Linked DNA regions of Homo sapiens: region 1 is linked to region 2. Evidence: fine-mapped expression QTL. A gene starts in region 2. The other region holds a variant in brackets. All regions are shown on one strand. Distances are between the middles of the regions. Region 1 overlaps MED27 (mediator complex subunit 27). Region 2 holds the start of MED27 (mediator complex subunit 27).

Region 1 (8,000 bases), 70 kb after region 2:
GGTGTACTGCGGTAGACTACAAATTCTATGGTTTTTATTATAAGCAAGATATGGTGGTAGCAAGACTTCCCAGAACTAACTTTGTCTCTAAGGAAAACCTCTGGATTTTCTTATTAAAAAATTACGTAGGCTTTAAAACCATTTACATAAAGCATATGAATAGTAGTCAAAAATAAAGAAGAAAGTAAAAATCACTCGAATTCTACTACTGAAAAATACAGTTAGCATTTTAGAGAACATTTTTTAAAGTGCCTCTCTGTTTACAATGGAACCTTTTTTCTTTTAATTCAACAAAATGGTGTTGTGAAGTTCTTTCTCTATTTTAATCAATTTCACAGTCAGTTGTTGGACATTCCGACTGCTTCCAGTTTTTCATCATGAGGTAATGCTGTGATGAACAGTCTTGTTCTTGTTTTGTTTCCTGTTTGTCTGATTATCTTTTTATGGGTAAATTCCTTGAAGCAGAATGTGAGCAGTTGTATTTGAAGTTACTTAAAATGTTCTAAGGGGATAAGATTATCAAGCATTGCTAGTTTAATACCATTTGTCCTACTTTTACCAAATGCTATTTTTCTTCCCCTTTTGTTTTGTTTTTCTCTGCAGTTGCAGTACCATGCAGGACTAGCATCTGGCCTTTTAAATCAGCAGTCATTGAAGCGTTCCGCTAATCAGATGGGAGTATCTGCCAAACGTAGACCAAAGGCTCAGCCCACAACTCTTGTCCTACCACCTCAGTGAGTGATGGATTTGAAAAATTACTTTAGTACTGGGTGAACTTTTTTACTTTATACTTGTTTTTGGGTAGTGGAAAGTTACTGTTTTCTTCAAAATTCCCTCCCTCCCTTCCTTTTTTTGAGACGGAGTCTTACTTTTTCACCCTGGCTGGAATGCAGTGGCATGATCTCGGCTCACTGCAACCTCTGCCCTCCCCCACCCCCTCGAGTTCAAGCAATTCTCGTGTCTCAGCTTCCCAAGTAGCTGGGATTACAAGCGCACACCACCATGCCCAGCTAATTTTTGTATTTTTAGTAGAGATGGGGTTTCACTGTGTTGGCTAGGCTGGTTTCGAACTCCTGACCTCAGGTGATCCACCTGCCTCGGCCTCCCAAAGTGCTGGGATTACAGGTATGAGCTACCACACCCGGCCCAGAATTATTTCTTTCTTTTAAAAAGGCATCTATTAGGATTAGAAACCAAGCATGATGGTAACATAATTTGCATAGATCTTTGTGAAACAGCTGTAATGCAGTTTATTTTACATATTTTGTATGTGACTTTTCCACCTAGGATTTTAAGAGACCTCACGGCTTATTATTTGTTTCCTTATCACATTCCCAAAGGTGGTAGAATATGAGTACAGTTGTCCTTATTTTATAAATGAGACAGCTGAGGAGCACATTTGGTTAAGCTGCAGACCACCTAGAGAACCTGCTAGAGCTGAGATTAGAATAAATGCTAGGTTCATTCGTTCACATTTAAAAATAGTAATATATGTGCTCTTCTTTTTCCCATTAGGAAGGATAACAGATACAGTAAGCTTCACAGAGCATACAGTTTAATGATTTTTTCACACTCATGTACATCCGTGTAGCCACCACTTCCAGAATCCCATAAGGGTTCCTCCTCATTGCTCTCTGTCTATACCTGTGCTGCCCTCCTTCCCAAGTTTAACACCATTCTGACTTCTTTAAACAGTTAATATTGCCTGTCTTTGAACTTCATTTAAACGGAATCATGCAGTGTCATTTTTTTGTATGAGCTTCTTTTCACTCAACATCATATGTGTTAGATTCATCCTGTTGTCCTTTTTCTGTTGCAGTGTAGTCTTCCTTTGAATATGCCACATTTGATTCATCCACTTGGTTCGTTCAACCTGTTGGGTTCTTTTGTATTAGAAGCCCTAGTAGGTGAGTGCAAAGGCTCACTCAGTGATGTGGAATGAGAAATGTGGGCACATCAGTCCATTTCCTGTCAGTGTGCACACTCCTCTGGGAGGGCCAGATGCCCGAGAAGCGTTCCTTCGCCTGTCCTGCTCACCCCTTGTACCTTCTTCTGATTACATCCTCAGTTACAAACAGCATTCTTTTCTAGTCCAAGGGAGTGTTGGCATATATGAGTTGATTGTTTACCTTTGCTCAAGGTCTCATTTGCTGTTTGGTTAGCAAATATTTATTGTACCTACTCTGTGTCAGGCATGTTTCTAGGCCCCAAGGATATAAACATGGGCAGGACAGACATTGTCCCATCTTTGTTAAGCTTTTCATTTCGGGGGTGGGAGGAGACCAAACAAGCACCCCTCAACAAATTAATAAATTAACGCCATAATTTGTAGTTATGCTTAGTGCTAGGAAGGGACTACAGAGTGGGGTAAGGTATGGGAGTGGGGGATACTGTTAAATAGGGTGATCAAAGAGGGCTTCTCTGAGGAGCCAATATGAGGCAGAGACTTGACGAATGAGGAGGAGAAAGACCAGTGAAGAGCCGGGGGGATCCCAAGGGGTGACTGCTCTGGGGATCCTTTCTCTAGCTGGTGGACGTTCTTATGCCACCACTTCCATGATTTTCAGGCTTTCTTCACAGTTCACACTTGCTTCCAGGATAGGAGGAATGTAACCAGCCAGCCTCGACAAGTAGCTTGTGTCTGTTGCTTGCATGCACAGGGGCCATATTTTTCAAAAAGAAGGTCACTACAGGGACAGCTGCTTTTAGTGATGCAAGCCAGAGTTTTGACTATTTGGCAGAATGCTTCTTAAGGGCCATTATTCTATCTGTTGTTTCTCATGTGTCGATTTGGTGATTCTGCAAATCTCAACTTTCAGCTCTCTAAAGTCTAATGGGCCTTGTAACTTGTCATTTTCCCTGCATGGATTGTCTACTGAGGCAAGATGTTTGGCGAGAAGTAAAAGACTTTCTAATGGTCCCATAAGACTGGAGCCAAAAAGTATTTGTTGCTAACTCTCTCTTGACAAAAGTCAGTTCTTAGTCCATCTGTTCACCATTTGTTAATTTGCATTGGCTTGAAACCTGTTTACAGGTGACATGCTATTGTGAGGACACTTAGAAACTATTTTAGGCATTAGGGCAATCAACAGACTGTTCTCATGCCAAAAAAAAAAAAAAAGAGCGAGAGGTGTTCACAACTGTCATTATAAATTTATAATAAATCACTCAAAATAGTTTCAAAGAGAAAAGTGGTTACTGTGTCCTAAGAATACAACATAGAAATGATTTCCTATACTTAGTAGCCTATTTCCTGTGAAAATTGACTGCTGCCTTTTCACATCATTGAGCTTTTTGGGCTTACATTATCCTGGAATCCCTTTATAGAACTACTGTCCAGTAGGCAGAAGCTATATCTAAAAGACATCAATTGCCTCCCCAACTCCCCTTTTTGTTTCTTTTTAGAGGCATGTTTTTCCTCTGTCACCCAGGCTGGAGTGCAGTGGTATGATCACAGCTTACTGCAGCCTCAAACTCCTGAGCTCAAATGATCCTCTCACCTTGACCTTTGAAAGTGCTGGGATTATAGATGTGAGCCACTGCGTCCCGCCCCATTGCACTTCCACTGAGCACCTACTATGTGCCACTCATTATGTTTGATGTTGGCTAGAAATGCAACA[T/C]GGCTGCCTGTCTAAAAAGTTTTGTTTTTCTTTTTTAAGCTAGGAAATAGAACAATAATAGTATATACATAATGTAGATTTTGAAAAGGTAACAAAAACATTAAAAAATAATGTTTTTGTTATCTGAAAAAGTTATTAAGATTAGGATGGATATTGTTCTAGACTTTTTCTGTGCATATGTCATATATAGTTTTTAAAAGCAATAGTTTTTTTAAAGCAATAAATAGGTTTTAAAAGCAAAATAATCTCCAAAAAGGAGTATATTATAGTATTGTTCTATTTCATATCTCAACCTTTTATTGAATATAGTTGTGACATTTAAGGGAGCATAATTTGATCTATGGACTATTCAAATTTGCATATCAATATCCATCTTTTGGTTGTATTCTATAGAAGACTCCTTATTACAAAATTTTTTTATTATACTTTAAGTTCTAGGGTACATGTGCACAACCTGCAGGTTTGTTACATATGTATACATGTGCCATGTTGGTGTGCTGCACCCATTAACTCGTCATTTACATTAGGTATATCTCCTAATGCTATCCCTCCCCCCTTCGCCCACCCCACAACAGGACCCGGTGTGTGATGTTCCCCCTCCTGTGTCCAAGTGTTCTCATTGTTCAATTCCCACTTACGAGTGACAACATGTGGTGTTTGGTTTTTTGTCCTTCTGATAGTTTGCTGAGAATGATGGTTTCCAGCTTCATCCATGTCCCTACAAAGGACATGAACTCATCATTTTTTATGGCTGCATAGTATTCCGTGGTGTATATGTGCCACATTTTCTTAATCCAGTCTATCATTGATGGACATTTAGGTTGGTTCCAAGTCTTTGCTATTGTGAATAGTGCCACAATAAACATATGTTTGCATGTGTCTTTATAGCAGCATGACTTATAATCCTTTGGGTATATACCCAGCAATGGGATGGCTGGGTCAAATGGTATTTCTAGTTCTAGATCCCTGAGGAATCACCACGCTGTCTTCCACAATGGTTGAACTAGTTTACAGTCCCACCAACAGTGTAAAAGTGTTCCTATTTCTCCACATCCTCTCCAGCACCTGTTGTTTCCTGACTTTTTAATGATTGCCATTCTAACTGGTGTGAGATGGTATGTCATTGTGGTTTTGATTTGCATTTCTCTGATGGCCAGTGATGATGAGCATTTTTTCATGTGTCTGTTGGCTGCGTAAATGTCTTCTTTTGAGAAGTGTCTGTTCATATCCTTCACCCACTTAAATGTTAGACCTAAAACCATAAAAACCCTAGAAGAAAACCTAGGCAATACCATTCAGGACATAGGCATGGGCAAGGACTTCATGTCTAAAACACCAGAAGCAATGGCAACAAAGCCAAAATTGACAAATGGGATCTAATTAAACTAAAGAGCTTCTGCACAGCAAAAGAAACTACCATCAGAGTGAACAGGCAACCTACAGAATGGGAGAAAATTTTTGCAATCTACTCATCTGACAAAGGGCTAATATCCAGAATCTACAAAGAACTCAAACAAATTTACAAGAAAAAACAACCCCATCAACAAAATTTTTATTATAAGCACAACATAACTATAAACTAACTTTTTGTCATTAAGAAAATCCTTTCAACCCCCTTATAAAACACCGAAATCCTCCAAGGTTGCTATGTTAATTATCTATTGCTTCATAACAGATTGCTCTAAAACTTAGTGCTTTAACAGCCATGAACATTATCTCTCACAGTTTCTGTGGATTAGGAATCCAGGAGTGGCTCGTTTGGGTGGTTCTGGCTCAGAGCCTCTTGTAAGGCTGCAGTCACCTGAGGTTTGGCTGGGATTAGGAGCTCCACTTGCAAGGTGGCTCACTCACATGGCAGGCAAGTTGGTGCTGGCCGTTGGCAGGAGATCTCGGTTCCTCTCCACCTAGGCCTCTCCGCAGGCTGCTTGAATATCCTCATGACATGGCTTCTGGCTCCTCCAGAGCCAGCAATCTAGGAGAATGAGAGCCAGGCAGCAGCCATCCTTTTTATGACCTAATCTCAGAAGACACACAGCGTCAGTTCTACCCCATTCTGTTCATTTGCAATGAGTCACGAAGTTTGACTGGCATGCAAGGGGAGGGGATGAGGCTCTCCCTTTTGAAGAAAGACGTGTCAAAGAATTTGTGGACATATTTATTTTAAAACCATCACATCGCACACAGGAACAATGGCTGAGCCTGTAAACCCCATTCACTTATTTATTCAGTAAATATTTACTCAGGGCCTACAAATGCTTGGTTCTATGCACTGTGCTGGGGATTCGGAGATGAATAAGATATAATCTTGGTTTTTGGGAAGTTCTGAGTAGAGATAGGAGCAAACAAGGAGCAGAGCATCATAGCAACATGGACCAAGTTGACTGACATGACCTTCTTCCAGTGCCTGAGAAGGCCACGGGCAGAGTGGGGAGGGAGGTCCACTTGGGGAAGCCCAGCCGCCCTTCACCAGATTTATCTGCTGCTGGCTGTGAAGGATGGGGGCCTTATTTCATTGAGAATGCTAGATGCTTTCTTGCATAGGCTTACAGGATTCTAAGGAAAGGTTTTGTTTTTAAACGGTGGAGGAAAGCAGTGAAGGGCTAGCGTCTGGGTTCCTCACACACCTTTCTCTGCAACCCTGTGCGTATTAGTGCAGTGATGGGTAGGTTTCTGCGTGGCTTGTGTTAGCAGTTGGATGGCACTAAGGCTGCTACAGCAAAACTACTAGTTCTGCCCAACTGTGCAGAGAGCACAGGCGTGGCAGGAATGCAGGAGCTGTGTACGATGTGTTTGTTTTTAAAATGCAGGGCTCTAACGGTAGTCTCTGAAGACTCAGATTCCTCCCTGAGCTCCCATAGGATGAGTGATTCATGGGATTAATGATTCATATCTTTCTCCCCCTCCAAAGAAGCTTGATAGAAGATAAAGATCTTGTTCATGATGAAAGATATTTTATCACTTGTTAGCGTTCAGAGGGCACTGATGAAGTGACCTCACTTCTAGGATTTCCAAATGCTCAAATTAAGGTTTTTGCACAAGGGGTGCTATCGTTTCCGTAAAGAGGCTGAGAGGCTGTGTCCACTGTTGCTGTGCAAACATTGTTGGGCTTCTGAGCCTCATAGGATTGGGATCAGCCTGGAGAGTGGCTATATCTTATTTAATTGATCTATGAGTTATATATTGAGATATCTATGTATTTATTGAGAGATGTAGCTGTGTTTACCTGTGTTCTATCTTAGATAGCAGCCTCGATTTTCTAATGCAGTGTTGTGTGCTTTTGTGTTAACATGGAATATTGCTTTCAATCAGTATGGCCAGGCTGAATGGCCTAGCACTCCTCTGAGTTTCAACAACTTGGCCTGATGAAATGCCAGCTTTCAGTAACAGCAGAGGTGACTGTGTTCATATCCAGCAAACCGAGATCTTATTTAGGTTTGAGGGAAAACAAATAGTTTTTCAGAAAGCTTACATTGAAAACTATTACCTCCATGCCCTGGAAGTTGTGGGGACAGGCAGTTTCTCTTGCATTATATTATCTTCCATGAAAAGATTCTGTCTGCTTGATTAAGGGCATACTTGTTTCCCGGGCTTTGTTCTCTGTGGTCCCTGGGGGTGAGCTATTCGTGCTCCAAGCTAAGAACAGCCCATCTACTTGCTGATGGATCCCTCTCACCTACTCCTGGCCTTGTCTCCATTGGTCTCCTTTTTCCGTCCTACACCATAATTATTTCCCTTTTCTCCTGATCATTCTCATTCATAGACAAAACATGCTTACCCTGAAAACTGTCTCCTGTAAGAACACACATCCATGACTGCATTCTGCCTCCCAGCTCCCACCTCGTGTCTCTCCTCTTTATAGCAAAACTCCTCCAAAGGGTGGATTATACTTGTCTCCAATTTCTCTCCCACCCCAGGCAACTACTGTTCTGATATCTATACTTATACCTTAGCTTTGCCTCTTCTGGAACTTCTGTATAAGTGGAGTCATGCAGAACATAATATTTTCCTTCTGATTTCTTCTACTCAACATGTTTTTGAGATTCCTTTATGTTGCATGTATCAGCGGTTGGTTCCATTTTATTGCTGAATAGTATTTTTTCGATGTTCTTTGGAGCTTACTGGTGCCATTTCCTCAGCGTTTGCATTTGTTTCAGTATCTTGTAATACTTTCAAGAGAGAGAGAGTCCTCACTTTGCGTTTCGATTCTTGGATGACTTGCCTCTCAGGTTTGAGTAACAATAAGACCACAAAAACAGCATGCAGTGACAAGTGTTGCTGGAAGGAAGTGCCACCCATTCAGGAGGTAACAGGGATAATGACACAGCACTCACACCTAGGGCTTCCAGTGTTTGAACAACAGATTGCCTTTGGTACGGCCAC
Region 2 (8,515 bases):
TTAACGAGAGGTTCATGTTTGGGCTTTGGAGGGTGGTGCTATGAACCCCCTGAAATTGTACATAAAATCTCATGTTTATGGGCATATGTGGGTGAGGGTAGAAATAGATTGGTACTTTTTTTTTTCCTGGGGACAAAATATACCACATGAGTCACATTTTCTAATCCTTCAGGAACCCCCAAAAGGTAAGTACCTAAGATAATAGAATTTGCCTCCTCTACTCTTTTCCTAGAAAGAATGAACAAACCAAAGCCAAAACCAAAACAAGCCAACGAACAAAGATATTTCTCTTTACTTTTACTTCCTTTACTTTTGTAAAGTTAAAAAATATTTTCTACCAAAACCTTAGGAAAAAGCCTTACCCCTACATTCCAAAGGTGACAAAAAGGCCACCAAGGCCAGGGGCGGTGGCTCACGACTGTAATCCCAGCACTTTGGGAGGCAGAGGCGGGCGGATCACCTGAGGCTGGGAGTTGGAGACAAGCCTGGCCAACATGGTGAAATCCCATCTCTACGAAAAATACAAAAACTAGCAGGGCATGGTGGCGTGCCCCTGTAATCCCAGCTACTTGGGAGGCTGAGCAGGAGAATTGCTTGAACCTGGGAGGCGGACGTTGCAGTGAGCTGAGATTGCACCACTGTACTCCAGCCTGGGCAGCAGAGCGAGACTCATCTCAAAAACAAAAACAAAAACAAAAACAAAAACAAAAAAACCACCAAATATAGTGAATTATGGGATAAAATTCATTGACCAGCTATTAGCAACAAGATCATGTCATTAGAGATAATTTGAACTAATAATCCCATTGCTAATCCTTGCTTGAGTCTATGTAAAGAATTCTCAGTGGGATGAGAAGCATAATTCACAGACACCTTCTCCTAACAGCTATGCTCTTCTGAGCGTTTATTATCTACCAAGCATTATTTCAAAAGCTTCACCTGCAAGGTGTTATTAAACCTCACAGCTATTTTATGAAGATAGGTATTATTACCAGTCTGTTTTACAGACAAGGAAACAGATTCAGGGAGGTTCAATAACTTGTTAAAGCTCCACAGCTAGAAGTTTCCTGTTATCTTCATCCCTTCCCTTAAGAAAAGCTATAAATGACCACATTGTAAAGGTGAGCTAGATGTCAGGAAATGGAAGCAACTATATAATCTCAAGACAAAACAGCTTTCTTGCAAGAGACAATTAATTTAAATAGTGTTTAATAGTTGGTTTGTCGGGGTCCAGTTTCTTAGCAGAATTCATCTTTGTGTTTCCAGAACTAGAGGATTTGAACCGAGGTGGTGCGGTCAGGCTGGGAGGAAGTGGGGAATTTTTTTGAGACAGAGTCTGGCTCTGTCGCCCAGACTGGAGTGTAGTGGCACGATCTCGGCTCACTGCAACCTCCACCTTCTGGGTTCAAGCGATTCTCCTGCCTCAGCCTTCCGAGTAGCTGGGATTACAGGCACGTGCCACCACGCCAGACTAAGTTTTGTGCACATCCGGCTAAATTTTGTATGTTTTAGTAGAGACGGGGTTTCACCATGTTGGCCAGGCTGGTCTTGAACTCCTGACCTCGAGTGATCTGCTCTCCTCGGCCTCCCAAAGTGCTGGGATTACAAGCGTGAGCCACCGCACTTGGCCGGGAAGTGGGGAATTATTAAGGAGGTGGAACTGAGGTGAACTACCCAATTTCAAAATCCTTGTCAGCACAGTCTGGCTGAACTGAAGATTTTTCTTACCACCTAGACGGTGGTTTAGACTTTCCCTGCCTCTTAAGGATGGCCTTTTTATTTACTTACTTATTTATTTTTTTTGGAGACGGAGTTTCACTCTTGTTGCCCAGGTTGGAGTGGAATGACGTGATCTCGGCTCACCGCAACCTCCGCCTCCAGGGTTCAAGCGATTCTCCTGCCTCAGCTTTCCTAGTAGCTGGGATTACAGGCATGTGCCACCACGCTCGGCTAATTTTGTATTTTTAGTAAAGACAGGGTTTCTCCACGTTGGTCAGGCTGGTCTCAAACTCCCGACTTCAGGTGATCCTCCCGCCTTGGCCTCCCAAAGTGCTGGGATTACAGGCATGAGCCACCACGCCTGGCCTGGATGGCCATTTAAAACAACTTATTGGCCGGGCGCGGTGGCTCACGCCTGTAATCCCAGCACTTTGGGAGGCCGAGGTGGGCGGATCACAAGGTCAGGAGATCGAGACCATCCTGGCTAACACGGTGAAACCCGGTCTCTACTAAAAATACAAAAAATTAGCCGGGCGCGGTGGCGGGCGCCTGTAGTCCCAGCTACTCGGGAGGCTGAGGCAGGAGAATAGCGTGAACCCGGCAGGCAGAGCTTGTAGTGAGCTGAGATAGCTCCACTGCAGTCAGGCCTGGGCGAAAGAGTGAGACTCCGTCTCAAAAAAAAAAAACAAAAACAAACTTATTTTGACATAATTTCATACTTGCAAGAATAATACAAAGTATTCCTGTATACCCTTCACCCAGATTCCGTGTCTGTTGACATTTTACCACATCTGCTTTCGCCTTCTCTCTCTAAATAAACATATTCATTTTATTTTCTTTTTCATGTAGACATAATGATGATCTTTTTTCTCTTCAGGGTGTATTTCCCCCAAAACAAAGACATCCTCTTCCATAACCACAGTACAATGAACAAAATCATGAAATTATCAATGATATGGTTTGGCTCTATGTCCCACCCACATCTCATGTCAAATTGTAATCCCCAGTGTTGGAGGAGGGGCCTGATGGGAAGTGATTGGATCATGGAGGCGGATGGATCATGGAGGTGGATTCCCCCCTTGCTGTTCTCGTGATAGTGAGTGAGTTCTCACGAGATCTGGTTGTTTAAAAGTGTGTGGCACCTCCTCCTCTTTCACGCTTCAGCCATGTAAGATGCGCCTGCTTCCTGTCACCTTCCCCCATAATTGAAAGCCTCCTGGGGCCTCTCCAGTCATGGTACCTGTACAGCCTGCAGAAACATAAGCCAGTTAAACCTCTTTTCTTTGCAAATTACCTAGTCTCAGGTATTTCTTTATAGCAGTTCAAGAACAGACCAATACAATCACTGATAAAATACTGTTAACTCATCTACAGATCTTACTCGGATTTCACCAATTGTCCCAGTTGTATCAGCAAAAGAAGATCCTAGCTCACACATTGCCCTCAGTTGTCACAGCTCTTTGGTTTCCTTTAATCTGGAAGAATTTCTCAACCTTCATGTCTTTCGTGACACAGACATATATATATATATATATGTAATTTTTTTTTTTTTTTTTGAGACTGAGTCTTGCTCTTGTTGCCCAGGCTGGAGTGCAATGATGCACTCTTGGCTCACTGCAACCTCCACCTCCCAGGTTCAAGCAATTTTCCTGCCTCAGCCTCCCAAGTAGCTGGGATTACAGGTGCCCACCACCACGCCCAGTTAATTTTTTGTCTTTTTAGTAGAGATGGGGTTTCACCACGTTGGCCAGGCTGGTCTCGAACTCCTGACTTCAAATGATTCACCCACCTTGGCCTCCCAAAGTGCTGGGATTACAGGTGTGAGCCACAGTGTATGGCCTGACACAGATATTTCTTGAAAAAGTATAGGTCAGTCAGTTATTTTGTCACGTTTTTCAGTTTGAGTTCTATTGATGTCCTGATTAGATTCAGGTTATGCACTGCTGGCAAGAATATCATGGAGGTCATGTTGTGCTCTTTCCAGTGCATTGTATCAGGAGGTGCACAACATGTCCCGTCACTGGTGATGTTGACCTTGGCCTTTTGGTTAAGCTGGTGTCTGCCATGTTTCTCCACTGTGAAGTCACTATTAAGTCACTATCCATCCCCCCTTATGTTTACATTAATGAATTGTTTAAAATTTTTTGGTAAAATATACATAATATAAAATCAACCATTTTCACTGTTTCTAAGTGTCCAGTTCTGTGGCATTAAGTACAATCACATTGTTGTATGGCCATCACCACCATCCAGCTGTAAAACTTTTCCAAGTCTGTACTCTTTAAGTACAGACTTAAATATGGCCCTTTGCAATATTATGCTGAAATCTTCCTCTCTACAGCCTTCCTACAACTGGTTATTGTTATTGCCACTAGTTAACCAAGGAGGACTCTTGTCTTGGGTTGACATGAAGGTGAGTTGAAGGTCACAATCATGATCTGCCTCCTGCTCTCCTCTTCTCTGCTCCAAGCTATGCAACCCCAGCTCCTCTAAGGAAAGAACATGAGGACTTGGGCAGGTTCCCTTTAGTAAAAAGATAATAAATTTTCAGAAACCTGTCTATAGCCAACAGGACAAAGAGACATTGAATTTTTCCATAAAGCCAGATTTGGCCAACATTTTGTTGGTTTTATTTAAATCCCAAACCTTCTCTTTCTTCCACAACCTCTATGCTATGTATGTTATTTTCAGAGGTGTGTGTTCACTGTAAACCAGCCACCATTCTACTTTCTGTCTCTAACATTTTGACTACCCTAAACACCTCATATAAGTGGAGTCACACAGAATTTTGTTTTTTTGTGACTGGCTTATTTCACTTAGCATAATGTCTTCAAGTTTCCTCCAGGTAGCATATGTCAGAATTTTCTTGCTTAAGCCTGAAGAATTTTTCATTGTATGCCAGTATCACACTTTGTTTATTCATCAGTTTATGGACACTTGGGTTTCCCCTGCCTTTTGGCTATTTGGTGAATAATGCTGTTATGAACATGTGTACAGGTATTGAGTCCCTGCTTTCGCTTCTTTTGGGTATATGCCCAGAAGTGGAATCTCTGGATCATTATTTTCCTCTTCTTAATTAATAAGCATCTTGGGGGACGATACTTTGAGATTACCTAAAAAGCCTGTTATTTTTCTGACACTTTCACCCACTAGTTTTAGCATCCATCGATTTCTATCTGAATCAATTATTCTAATGGCTGTCAAATGGCAATTTTCTAATTCCATCACTCTTTCTGCATTTATGAGCTGGCATTCTATTGGAAAGAAGAAACTTTCCTTCTCCCCGCTTTATTTATGAATATGGACTCATTTTATTGAATGGGCTATGTTCCTTTCCTTTTTACACTATTGCTCTGAGCAATTCTTTTCCCTATGATTCCCCAGAGTGCAAGTTTGGGGAAATGCGGGAACTTTCTGTATTTCTTTGTCACCATTAAGCAAACCGGGAGTGCAACCTGACTTCCCCAAGTTGAGAAAAATCACTTTCCTGCCCATGCATTAGTTTAGCTCAAGGGGAAACCCTTTTTCGAAAGTGCTTTCTGGGTAGCCCCGCGCGAACTGCATTTCCCAGAGGTCTTCGGAGATACGTCATCAGCGAGCGCGGCTTTTTTGCTTGCGAAGCCGGCTTTGGAGAGCTGCTGTGGCGGCGGCAACATGGCGGACGTGATAAATGTCAGTGTGAACCTGGAGGCCTTTTCCCAGGCCATTAGTGCCATCCAGGCGCTGCGCTCCAGCGTGAGCAGGGTGTTCGACTGCCTGAAGGATGGGATGCGGAACAAGGAGACGCTGGAGGGCCGGGAGAAGGCCTTTATTGCGCACTTCCAGGACAACTTACATTCGGTCAACCGGGACCTCAAGTAGGTACCGGCTGAAGGGGCCGGGGTCGGGGACCGGCCCCGCTCCGACCCTGCCCCTACGTCGCTCGAGTCTTCCCAGGCAGGGGCTGTTCTCCGTTTCCCTTGATCCCTGTTCTTTCTCTTCTTGTTCTCCAAGCCTCTGCCTGTCCCTCAGGGACATCTTAACACCATCCCCGCTTTCTCGTCTTGCTTCTCCTGGCCTCCTGGTCCTGTTTGTCTTCCGCCATCCTCGACCTCTTCTGTGGCGGTTCCATTCCTAACAAGGAGGCATGCTTTTCCCATGAACTTCCACTTCTCTGAGCTTGGCAGGTTTCTCACCTGTAGGCCCTCTGTGCCCCATCACGTCTGATCCGAATGTAGTAATAGTACAGACAGGACCTGGTCAGTCGGCTCCAAACCCAAGTGCACCCGATCTGATTAGCCCCAATTCCCCGGCCCTGAACTTGGACTTCATCAGTTCCACCACCACCCACCCGCAACCACGACGGACCGGCCAGGCCTTGAGCTGTCTTCACCTTTTCCCCTAACCGCTCCCAAACCACCTGATCAGTTTCCTCACTCCCACTCCTGTGGGAGTTCCTTCCGCAGTAGAGACCTACTCTCTAATCTCTTAACCAGTTTAATTACTTATGCTTAACGCCCCTGCTTCTTAATTTGTAGTCTTTTAGGGTTAAGGATTCCACTTTTCCTCCTCTTCCTTACAAAGTACCTTCTTCACTTACACTTTTTAAGTGTTGTAAGAATTAAATGAGAGGATGTTTGTAAAGGGCCTGGCACATAGTAGGCACTTCTTGATTGCTTAGGTCCTGAACTTGCCTTCTGTTTTATAAGAGAGTCAGTCCTTCCCAGGAAGGTTAGAATTTCAGGATTTTTGCCTTTTACTTCTCAGAACTGACCTGAGTAGGGGAAAGCATTTGGTGAGCTAGTCATCCTTTGATTTCTGGACTGGTTGGATTTTTGTTTTTTCAACTTGGTCTCCTTAGTAACCAGATGGAAAGAGGAGGTAGGATGGAGGAGGAGGAGGAGGAGGTGGCCAAATGATGGGTGCCTTTTTGTTTTCCCCCTAAGTAGTTGCCGTAAATCACACAGCCCTCCTCAACGCCCACATCCGCTTGCTGTTCTCTGGCACCGCGCCGAGCACCAGTTAATACTTTCTCTGCTTCAGGGGATGCACTGGCTATTCTTCCCTATCTTCTGTTTTCTTTCCATTTTCTCTCCGAGTTACTTCCCTTTGTAATGTTCAGGATATTATAACCCTTCACCATTTTAAATAGAAACTTTAAGAGTGCTGACATTATCCTTTTGCCTTCTTAAATCTTTGTACAGTAGTGCCAAGAAGAAGGTGGCTGATGATTCCAAAATGAATGTGGCATAAGAAGCTGTTCCTAGAGAGTCTTTTGTTGGCAGTTTGGGACTGGCCCCTCAGAACGTACTCCTGGAATGTGCTCTTGTTGGCTCGCTTTCCCAAGCTTCTCTAGGGTTTTCCTGCTAGACTGAAGTGTGTTTGTTTGACACAGCCACCTCAGTGGTGTCTTCCCATTCCATTTGTTTATTTTATCTCTTCTTTGTTTTGTTAAGTTTTACCATCTGTGAAGCATCATGTACAAATCTATCCCTATGTGAATGATAAATAATCATCATTTAATCAGGTACTTGCTGTTCTGCCAAGTGTAATGATCTGCACGTGGGTCTGAAAACTCTTAGTGAGAGGCAGTGTTATACCACATTTCAAAATTCCAGAAAGTCTCCTCCCCACTGCAGGGATGAATTTGAGTTGTTAATTTCTGATTATGGGGGTCTTATTGATTCTACTGCCCTTACCTTTTTTTTCCTCCTTTGGAATGGCACCAGAAGCTCTGTTTTAAAGTCAGATAAACTCTCATTTAGGGTTTTTTTTTTTAAGTGTCCCAAGTATTTTTTAACCTTTCAAAAAGTATTTCTTCTTAAGGGACTTCTGATGGATGGTTTGAAGAGCAGTCTTTGATCCTGGGGGCTGGCTTTACCCTGGAGTGTAAATGGGCTTAGGTTTATTTGCCTTGTCTCTTTGCTTTTCAGTGAGCTGGAACGTCTGAGCAATCTGGTAGGCAAGCCATCTGAGAACCATCCTCTTCATAACAGTGGGCTGTTAAGCCTGGATCCTGTGCAGGACAAAACTCCTCTCTATAGTCAACTCCTTCAAGCATATAAGTGGTCAAACAAGGTAAGGGAGATGTAATAAACGGAGCTAATATATGGAAAACCAAGTTTTCTTATATTCCATACATGCAGAAAGCAAGAGTATGTTTTTATTGCTTTTTATGTTCTTGATTCAGCATGGGGTTATAGAGTTGGAAGTTGTAGAATTTTTCTGTAACCTATTTTGTAGTCCTTTGAAGTCTTTGGGGATTCATGATGTTCAGGTGATTACATGTTAAAAATTCTAACTCAGGTGTATTTAACCTGGAGACTGGGTATAGGGAGCAACTCTTATGAACCCCTTAAAATTATATGCAGTATGTTGTGGTATGTGCATGTATATCTAGGGAAGGCTTCCTAGCTTTTGTCAGGTTCGCAGAGGAATCTGTGGCCCCCAGGAGGTGTCTAAATGTTTAGCTGCGCACATTATGTTCTTGTATTGTCTTTTCCTCTGTCACAGATGGATGAGCATCACTAGAATACCGTTTGTTAGATGACTCTCTAATTACTTAGATGCCACCTAAGGGAGATTGTTCTTAACATGCTCTGTAGAGTTTGATATTCATGGTTTCTTTCAGCAGGCAGGCCTGTGGCAGAGACCCTAGGACAGCTGTAAGTTGCAAACTAAACTGTAGCTGAAAAATAACAGAAACAATTAGGCTCATGAATCTGGAAACGGTTCGTTTGTTTACTAACAAGTTCCTTTTGTTTGGGTGCTATGTGGTGTGGCGTACATGTGTGTATGGGCTTTTTTTGTTGATTGG

What was found. PIP is the estimated chance that this variant, and not a neighbour inherited with it, causes the effect.
Region 1: its variant is the best candidate, but not a certain one, in a credible set for the expression of MED27 in whole blood (TOPMed, PIP 0.56).

What each region holds. Positions count from the first base shown.
Region 1 is chr9:132,007,071-132,015,070 of GRCh38, reverse strand. It overlaps MED27 (mediator complex subunit 27), which reads left to right. Exons shown (of 8, transcript NM_004269.4): 3 at 604-734. Among named protein-coding and RNA genes, the nearest start is that of MED27, 69 kb to the left of the region's middle. RefSeq lists enhancers at 7,610-7,719, 7,515-8,000. The variant T/C (reference allele first, on the strand shown) is at 3,621.
Region 2 is chr9:132,076,703-132,085,217 of GRCh38, reverse strand. MED27 (mediator complex subunit 27) reads left to right here and starts at 5,351. Exons shown (of 8, transcript NM_004269.4): 1 at 5,351-5,576; 2 at 7,632-7,776. The coding sequence starts at 5,374. RefSeq lists enhancers at 5,175-5,454, 8,378-8,515.